Homo sapiens: one gene and its partner. The protein of the gene in region 2 purifies or fractionates together with the protein of the main gene of each other region. This does not show direct contact. Each region holds a gene or a part of one and is shown on either strand. Other genes may lie near its edges.

Region 1 (5,019 bases), on a different chromosome or scaffold from region 2:
AAAGAAAGAAAAAAGAAAAAAAAAAACACAGAGATACAGAATTAATTGTTCCCACCCTACCCCATCTAATTAGTCACCACATCTCTCCATTCAACCTCCAAGATAACTCTTGAATCCTTTCCATGGCCACCAACTCAATTCAGGTTCTCATCGCCCTCACTTAGACTACTATGAACCCAACTAAAGGCCCTGTCTCTCAGTTCTCTTCCCTACAATCCATCATACTCATCCTTACTCTAACATTCAAGAAATTCCAAGGCCAAGCGTGGTGGCTCAGGCCTGTAATCCCAGCACTTTGGGAGGCCAAGTGCTTCAGGCCAGGAGTTCAAGACAGCCTGGGGAACATAGCAAGACCCCTAACTTTATAAAAAATAAAAATAACAAAAAGTTAAATATTAAAAAAAAAACTCCCCAAAACCCAGTCCTGACCTATTGGCAGTCTTACCTTCCATTATATTCCTTTATGTATCCTAGGACCCAGGAAACTTGGATATGCAATTTCCTGACACCCACATTTCTGACATAACCCCCAGACTTCCCTCCAGAATGCCCTCTTCCCTTTGCTTCTCGGCTTCCTGGTGGTGTGATTTAAATGCCACCTCTTCAGTGGAAGTGTTCCCTGATATCCCCAAGAAGGCAGTATCGCTCCCTCCACTTAATCCCGAAGTACCTTGTATGGCCCCCTTCAATGGCACCTATGAAATTCCTATTAGTCCTTTCATTTTGGGGTGCCCCATTCTCTCTACAGATAATTAGTTCCTTGTCAACGGAACAATGTTTCCTTCATGTTTGGATCCCTCAGAACAGAGCTTCTCAAAGGGTGTGCCATGGCACACTGGTATGCCCTGAATGAGTTAAAGATGGCCTAGACAGTGGTGGTCTTCTCAGCAATCCAAGCAGCCACAAAGAGACAACAGAAGGCCGGGCGCGGTGGCTCACACCTGTAATCCCAGCACTTTGGGAGGCCAAGGCGGGTGGATCACGAGGTCAGAAGTTCAAGACCAGCCTGAACAACATGGTGAAACCCCGTCTCTACTAAAAATACAAAAATTAGCAGGGCATGGTAGTGCGCACCTGTAATCCCAGATACTCAGGAGGCTGAGGCAGGAAAATCACTTGAACCAGGGAGGCGGAGGCTGCAGTGAGTCGAGATCGTGTCACTGTACTCCAGCCTGGGCAACAGAGCGAGACTCCCTCACAAAAAAAAAAAAAAGAGAGAGACAACAGAAGCCAGAACCCACAAATGGTCAAGCCTCAAGCAGTGTCCTGCTTCAACCCAGCACATGCCATCACAAGAACTTGAGAACCACTCAGAGGAGCAGTGATACAAAGGGGCTCACAGCAGATGCCCAATAAATACTTGCTGAACTGAATCCTGGAATAATCCATCTGTTCCCCTTCAAACACTCTTCCCAAGATCATTTACCATTTTGACCACACACTCTTTTTTTTTTTTTTTTTTTTTTTTGAGACGGAGTCTCCCTCTTTTGCCCAGGCTGTACGCAGTGGTGCTATCTCTATCTCGGCTCACTGCAAGCTCCACCTCCCGGGTTCACACCATTCTCCTGCCTCAGACTCCCGAGTAGCTGGGACTACAGGCACCTGCCACCACGCCCGGCTAATTTTTTGTATTTTTAGAAGAGACGGGGTTTCATCGTGTTAGCCAGGATGGTCTCGATCTCCTGACCTCCTGATCCGCCCGCCTTGGCCTCCCAAAGTGCTGGGATTACAGGCGTGAGCCACTGCACCCAGCCTCGACCACACACTCTTGTGAACAATTTTTACTGACCATATTATACCAGCCTTACCATTCAAAGCCTACAATAGTTAATTGCATAATATAGCAACTGATATCAACAAACAGTTCACCATAAAGAGGCTCAAATAGTTAAATTCAACATTATATAACAAAGAAATGAAAGTGCCATTTTACACTATTAAATTCACAAAAACTTCTGAAGAAAAATGGTTTTCTCTACTACTTATGGTAAAACAGGTATATCCATATATCTGTTAGGAGCACAAACTGGTATAACACCCTTGAAAACAGTAGGACAATATATGTGAGGAGCCATAAAAACACTGATACCCCTTAACATAATAACACACTCCAAAATTTATCCTTAAGATATCATTAGAAAAAATGCAACAGTATCTACAATGATGTAGATTAAAGTGTTAACTGAAAACCACCCAGACAGCAGTATAAATACTTCACATAAAAAGACTTAGGTAAATTGTAGCATGACTTGATGAAATTATTTTTGCAGCCTTTCAATATATAAAGTTAAATTATAAAATCTATAAGATGTAAATGTTTCATGATATAGTAAGTTTTTAAAAATCAAACTATAATGTATCATAATTTAAAATGAATTTTAAAATGTATATTTTGAAATGAAATGCCAAAAAGAAAATCAATTGTCTTAGGATAATAACCCAACATTTAACAATTTATTTATTATCAATTTATTCAACATTAAATAATAAAGTTCTACCCTACCAAGGAAATGAAGGGGTTCCAGGACACAAGCTTGATAAAGTCTCAAAAGGACCACCCCTCCCTTCTACTGCTCACTTTGGCCTTGACTGAGTGTTTTCATACTCTCCTTGGTCATGATGACCTATACTAACCCAAACCCCAGTTTTTCAAGGACCAGCCAACTGCCTCAATTGGTCCTCTGATCATCCCTATGAACCCGTGGGAGACAAATCATGCAAAACAAGCGAACACTCAAGAAACAAAGAACCTGGCCGGGCGTAGTGGTTCACGCCTGTAATCCCAGCACTTTGGGAGGCCAAGGCGGGTGGATCACCTGAGGTCAGGAATTCGAGACCAGTCTGACCAACATGGCAAAGTCCCAAGCTACTAGGGAGGCTGAGGCAAGAGAATCGCTTGAACCCAGGAGGCAGAGGTTGCAGTGAGCCGAGATCCCACCAGTGTACTCCAGCCTGGGCGACAGAGTGAGACTCTGTCTCGAAAAAAAACAATTTTTTTGATTTATTTATTAGTTTAACATTTATTACTTTAACAATTTACTTATTTATTACTTTAACCAATCAGCAAGTAGTCAGCCCAAGTTTCACTGTAAACCCTAAAAATATACAATATTGCCACATTAAAGTCTCTGGGATTCTCAAGGCTAACTTGCTGACTTAGCAGTGGACTGTATCAGTTAAAAGGCAGTGTGGACTCAGACAATCAAAGAACCAGGGGCCAGGAGACCTGAGAACAATTAAAAGCAAAATGTAGATAGATTTTTTTTTTAACTACAAAAAACACAAAGCTAAAAAGTCCAGCTTAAACCAGATGAGTAAAAAAATAGCTGGAGATATTCTTTTAAGTCTTAGCCAGAGTGCAAAAGGGAGGATGGAAAGTCATTTTATTAAGAGCTGAAGCTAGCCCGGCACAGTGGCTCACACCTGTAATCCCAGCTCTTTGGGAGGCCAAGGCGGGTGGATCACTTGAGGTCAGGAGTTCGAGACCAGCCTGACCAACATGGTGAACCCCCATCTCCAGTAAAAATACAAAATTAGTCAGGCGTGGTAGCGCACACCTATAGTCCCAGCTACTTGGGAGGCTGAGGCAGGAGAATCACTTGAACCCAAGAGGCAGAGGTTACAGTGAGCTGAGATCGCCCCATTGCACTCCAGCCTGGGCAACAAAAGCAAGACTCCATCTCAAAAAAAAAAAAAAAAAGACCTGAAGCTTTTTGCGGATGAAGATATCTCACAAAAGACAAGTACTGAAAATTCATGGCCAGGCATGGTGGCTCACACCTGTAATTCCAGCACTTTGGGAGGCCAAGGCAGGTGGATCATGAGGTCAGGAGTTTGAGACCAGCCTGGCCAACATAATGAAACCCCGTCTTTACTAAAAATACAAAAAAATTAGCCAGGCATGGTGGCAGGCACCTATAATTCCAGCTACTTGGGAGGCTAAGGTAAGGAGAATCGCTTGAACCTGGGAGGCAGAGGTTGCAGTGAGCTGAGATTGCACCACTGCACTCCAGCCTGGGCGACACTGCCAAGACTCTGTCTCTCAAAAAAAAAAAAAAAAAAAAAGGAAGAAAATTAATTTAAAAATAATTTTAGGTCGGGTGCGGTGGCTCACGCCTGTAATCCTGACACTTTGGGAGGCCGAAGCGAGTGGATCACCTGAGGTCAGGGGTTTGAGGCCAGCCTGGCCAACATGGTAAAGCCCTGGCTCTACTAAAAATACAAAAAGTAGCTGGGCATGGTGGCGGGCGCCTGTAATCCCAGCTACTCAGGAGGCTGAGGCAGGAGAATTGCTTGAACCCAGGAGGCGGAGGTTGCAGTGAGCCGAGATCGTGCCATTCATTGCACTCCAGCCTAGGTGACAAAAGCGAAACTCCGTCTCAAAAAAATAATAATAATTTTAACTCTGATGCCTCATAAGGAAAGTATTAAAAGCCTTCTAATTTATTTCTGTAGTATTACCATTTTCTAAGTGTAATAATGAAAGACGAAGACACCATAGCTGACCAAGAAGATTAATTACTGTGAAATAATAAATACTCAAGACTAAACTGTTTTTAATTAACAGGTATTTCAGCAAAAAGTAAATAATCTGAAAGACTAATAGTATCAATAGAGGTAGTACAACCACTAGGAAAAAAAGTTCAACCTTTTGTTTCTATTGATATGTTCTCCATATTTAGATCCTCAAAACTGCAGATATATACAGTCATTCATGACACTATGTAAATAGCAGATAACAGGAAAAACAATTCAATACTTAACCAAGTTCACTGGAGCACAAAGTAATCGCCACTCAAGAATGCTGACACAAAAACTGAAGGACCTCTCAAGTTCCAATAGCACGCAGATAAGCTGAGCCCCTATGCAGTTACTCATCTGAACAGAAGTGGAAGATTAACCTACCCTCACTCATTTCACACACTAACCTGACAAGGCAGCAGGCAGTCTCTTCGGAGCTTGTTCATCATTCAGTCTGTTCCAGAAGTAACCGATTCCGTTAGGATCTGTGCCTTCAGG
Region 2 (5,019 bases):
TTAAGAGCCGTAACACTCACCGCGAAGGTCCACAGCTTCACTCCTGAGCCAGCGAGACCACGGACCCCACCAGAAGGAATAAACTCCGAACACATCTGAACATCAGAAGGAACAAACTCCGGACACGATGTCTTTAAGAACTGTAACACTCACCGCGAGGGTCCGTGGCTTCATTCTTGAAGTCAGTGAGACCAAGAACCCACCAATTCCGGACACATAGGTATACATATATACACACATAGAACAACTTATACATCCCTGTACAAGTGGACCCTTGCAGTTCTGTTCAAAGGTCAACTGTACACACAGCTGTACAGGGTCCACTTGTACAGGGGCCACTTGTACAGGGATTTTCTTCCGCCTCTGCCACTCCTGAGACAGCAAGACCACACCCACCTATCCCTCTGCTACTCAACATAAAGACAATAAGGATGAAGACTTTTATGATGATCCACTTCCACTATGTGAATGGTCAATATATTTTCTTATCCTTATGATTTTCTTTTTCTTTTTTTTTTTTTTTTTGAGATGAAGTCTTGCTCTGTTGCCCAGGCTGGAGTGCAGTGGCATCATCTCGGCTTACTGCAACCTCGGCCTCCTGGGTTCAGGCAATTCTCCTGCCTCAGCCTCCACAGTAGTTGGGATTACAGGCATGCACCACCAAGCCCGGCTAATTTTTTTTGTATTTTTAGTAGAGATGGGGTTTCACCACATTGGCCAGGTTGGTCTCGAACTCCTGACCTTGTGATCCACCCGCCTCAGCCTCCCAAAGTGCCGAGATTACAGGCGTGAGCCACCGCGCCTGATCCGTTATGATTTTCTTAACATTTTCTTTTCTCTTACAGTACGTTATTAGTAGTTAAGCTTTTGGGGAGTCAAAGCTTATACGTGGATTTTTGACTGCACAGAGGATCAGTGCCGCTAAACTTTATGTTGTTCAAGGGTCAATTGTATACATAAACAAGAAATATGTTTGTGTGTGTATATGTTTCGAAAGAAATATACTAAAATGTAGTAGTTACCTCTGTGATATCAGGTTATTTTTATTTTATTTATATATTTCTGTACTTTCCAAGTTTTCTAAAGCAAAAGCTGTAACTTGTTTTTTATTTTTGAGACACAGTCTCATTCCTGTCACCCAGGCTGGAGTGCAGTGGCTCACTGCCGCCTTGACTTCCTAGGCTCCAGTGATCCTCCCATCTCAACCTCCTGAGTAGCTGGGACTATAGGAATGTGCCACCACACCCTGGTAGAGACAGGGTTTCGCCAAGTTGCCCAGGTTGGTCTCAAATTCTTGGGCTCAAGTGATCCACCTGCCTCAGCCTCCCAAAGTGCTAGGATTACAAGCATGAGCCACCACATCTGGCCCAAAAGCTGTAACTTTTATAATTGGGCAAACTTACTAAGAAAGGCAAAAAATGTTCAAGATATTTTCTACAAAGAATTCCTTGTAATCCAGTTATTATTAACTCCAAGGACACCTGCTTCAGAGTAAAGGAAAGACTAAATGTTTCCCTGGATTCCTTCTAATGACTTGTCTTCCCCATCTTTACTGACCTCTCAGGCCAAAAAACCCTAGGAATCACCTTGGATTTCTCTTTCCCTATATCTAGTTAATCAGCATCCTGCCAGTTCAAGCTCCAACAGAGAACCCAAATATGACCAATTCTGTCTTCACTGCTATGAACTCTAGTCACAAGCAGCAATGTCTTCTAACTTGTCTCCCTATCTCTACTTTTGCCACGGCTCCCAACAGACCTTTCTCCCCCCTCACACAGCATGCTGAGTTAGCTTTTTCTAATCAGATCACGTCCCTCTTTTGCTTAAAGTTCTTCATGGCTGCCTGCCCAGTGCAATTAGGCCCAACATGATCTGGCCCCTGGCTATCTCTCTGGCCTTACTGTCATATTACTTTCCCTTGTTTACTCTCCTCCAGTAATTCAGGCCCCACTAGTCTGTAAACACTGCCAACCTTGTTCTTACCTCAGGGCCTTTGCAATAGCTAGTCCTACTGCCAGGAATGTTTTCCCCAAATCTTCCCATAACTGATACCCTCTCTTTATTCAGGACTCATTTCCAATACTGTCTCCCAGGAATAGATAACCACTCTATCTAAAGAAATATTGTTCCCCTAATTGCCTATTCCTTCCAGCTGTGCTCAACCAGAATTCCTCATCCAAACCACAGAACACAGAAAATGATTTGAGTGATAATTTTCTCAAGTCTTGCAAAATGGGGCAAAAGTAGTATCATTCTTTTTTTAATTTTTTATTTTTATTTTTTATTATACTTTAAGTTTTAGGGTACATGTGCACAATGTGCAGGTTTGTTACATATGTATGGGCAAGGACTTCATGTCTAAAACACCAAAAGCAATGGCAACAAAAGCCAAAATTGACAAAAGTAGTATCATTCTATTATAGCTGCATGGAAAAAGTTAATTTATTAATACAATGGATGCCTAAGGACAGAAGTACTCAAACTTTTGGTCTCAGTACTCCTTTACATTCTTAAAAATCATTAAGGACCCCAAAGAATGTTTGTTTACAAGGGTTACTTACATTGATAATTACCACATTTGAAATGAAAACTGAGAAACTTAGTATTAATTCATTTAAAAGTAAGAAAACAATTACTTATCTACATAAATGAAAAAGCTATTTTCCAAAACAAAAAATGAAAATTTAGTAAGATGAATAGCCTTGCTTTATGTTTATACATCTCTTAATGTTTGGCTTAATAGAAGACTGCTGGATTCTTACATATGCTTCTGCATTCATTCTGTTGCAATATGTTGTTCTGACTGAAGTGTATGAAGAAAATGGGCATTCACACAGACACGTATTGGAAAAGGAAGACTTAAATGGCTTTTTCAAATAACTGTGGACATTTTTCTTTGATACTACACCAAAACTTAACAAGTGGTAGTTTTTTAAAGGTTAACTATAACATAGACTCAAGCCATACTAATGAACTTTTTGTGGCATTATATTAACATTCACTGGTTTATCATGCATGTAGAATGGACTTTCAGCCATGCATAATTTTGTAATATCACATATAAGTCATTTGAAAAATGCCAGTTCACTGAGTTATGCAGAACTTCTAAACATTGGCACGTTATTATACAACATCAAAAAAATTTTTTTTTTTTTTTTTGAGACAGAGTCTCACTCTGTCACCCAGGCTGGAGTGCAGTGGCACAATCTTGGCTCACTGCAAGCTCCGCCTCCCAGGTTCATGCCATTCTCCTGCCTCAGCCTCCCAAGTAGCTAGGACTACGGGCGCATACCACCATGTCTGGCTAATTTTTTGTATTTTTTAGTAGAGATGGGGTTTCATCGTGTTAGCCAGGATGGTCTCCATCTCCTGACCTCATGATCCACCCACCTCGGCCTCCCAAAGTGCTGGGATTACAGGTGTGAGCCACCGTGCACAGCCAAAAAAATTTTTTAAAGAGACAGGGTCTCGCTCTGTCACCCAGGCTGGAGTGTGGTGGCACCATCAGAGCTCACCATAACTTTGAACTCTTGAACTCAAGTGATCCCCCCACCTCAGCCTCCAGAGTAGCTAAGAGTCTTGGCATATGCCATCATACTCAGGCTAATTTTTGTATTTTTTGTAGAGACAAGGTCTTGCTATATTGTCCAGGTGGTCTCAAACCCCTGGCTTCAAGCCATTCTCCCACCGCAGCCTCCCAAAGCACTGGGATGACAGGCATGAGCTGCTGCGTGTGGCCCTCACATTTGTGAATGTTGCCATCCATTTAATCAGAAGAGATTTTAAGTACTGAGAAGCCATCATGCTCACGATGACAAAGTTTTCCGTAATTTCAATTTTTGCTTGAAAGTTTTAATTTTTTTCATTGGCAATAAACACTATCAACTGTTTTCTTCTAAATAACCATAGTTGTCATTCCTTTCAAATAAATATTGTCTTTGAAAAAAGTGGCTAGCTCAGTCCAACTTGAACAATTACACAAGATTGTTCATCACACTTGGGCATGGGGCAGACACACTTTTTGTGTGCTTCCCATTTTGTCACACAGAATACTAAAAAGGTGCGTACTCAGGGTCAAGGGTTAACAAAATTAATAATTTTTATCTCTTCATAAAGGAAGTTCTTAAGTTCAAATGGCATTAAACATTTTTTTATTGTGACATCTACTAGTAATTTATTGCCTCTGCCTTGATTCTTGCTAAGATACAAGTAGTTCTACTCCTCAATGCTGCTGCACCAACAGTGCAAATGTCAACACAGTGAAAAATGGCAATTAATCACTTAGTATTATCAGAAAATATTTTTGAACTCAGGCAACTCCTAAAAGGGCCTCAGGGATAAAGTTGCCAGACTTAGCAAATAAAAATACAGGATGCCCAGTTAAATTTGAATTTCAGATATACAATAAATACTTTTTTTAGTATAAATGTGCCCCAAATATTACATGGCATGTACACATACTAAAAACACTGTTTATCTGAAATTTAAATTTAACCGGATGTCCCATATTTTATCTGACAACTATATTCAGGAATCCACATTTTAAGAACCACTGCTTTAGGGCAACAGGCATTAGGTTCAATTTGGAATGGATTAATACTCAAGTACTAATACTTAAGCTGATTAAGGGCTTAATACTTTGTGGTTTCTTTATAGAAAATATCATTATCTGAAATTATCTTAGTTTATTTGCATCACTTATTGTTTTCCTCCCTCAAGAATGTAAGATTCATAAGGAAGGGATCTTGTCTGTCTTGCTCATCACTATATTCCTAGCACTTAGCACAAAAGAAATTCAGTAAATATTTGTTAAATGGACAAGTGAATAAATAAGAAGCGTTGTAATGCAAATGCTCACAGAAAATGAGCAACTAGAACTGAGACAGAGGAAAGATCCCAAGGTTCTGCGATATTGATTGCAAGAGCTCCCATTTGCAAGGTACCCACTGTTTCCTCAAAAGGACGGAGGCCCAGGAACACCCAGAGTGGGCTTGGGAAAGCCCGGTGGTCTAGGTTTCA

Evidence for each region.
Region 1: the proteins of NUP42 (region 2) and HELZ purify together in Homo sapiens (affinity purification with mass spectrometry; one large-scale study listed by BioGRID and IntAct). This does not show direct contact.

The regions. Positions count from the first base shown.
Region 1 is NC_000017.11:67,234,306-67,239,324, forward strand, and holds part of HELZ (probable helicase with zinc finger domain), read right to left. Parts: intron 1-5,019. UniProt on the Homo sapiens protein: May act as a helicase that plays a role in RNA metabolism in multiple tissues and organs within the developing embryo.
Region 2 is NC_000007.14:23,188,053-23,193,071, reverse strand, and holds part of NUP42 (nucleoporin NUP42), read right to left. Parts: intron 1-5,019.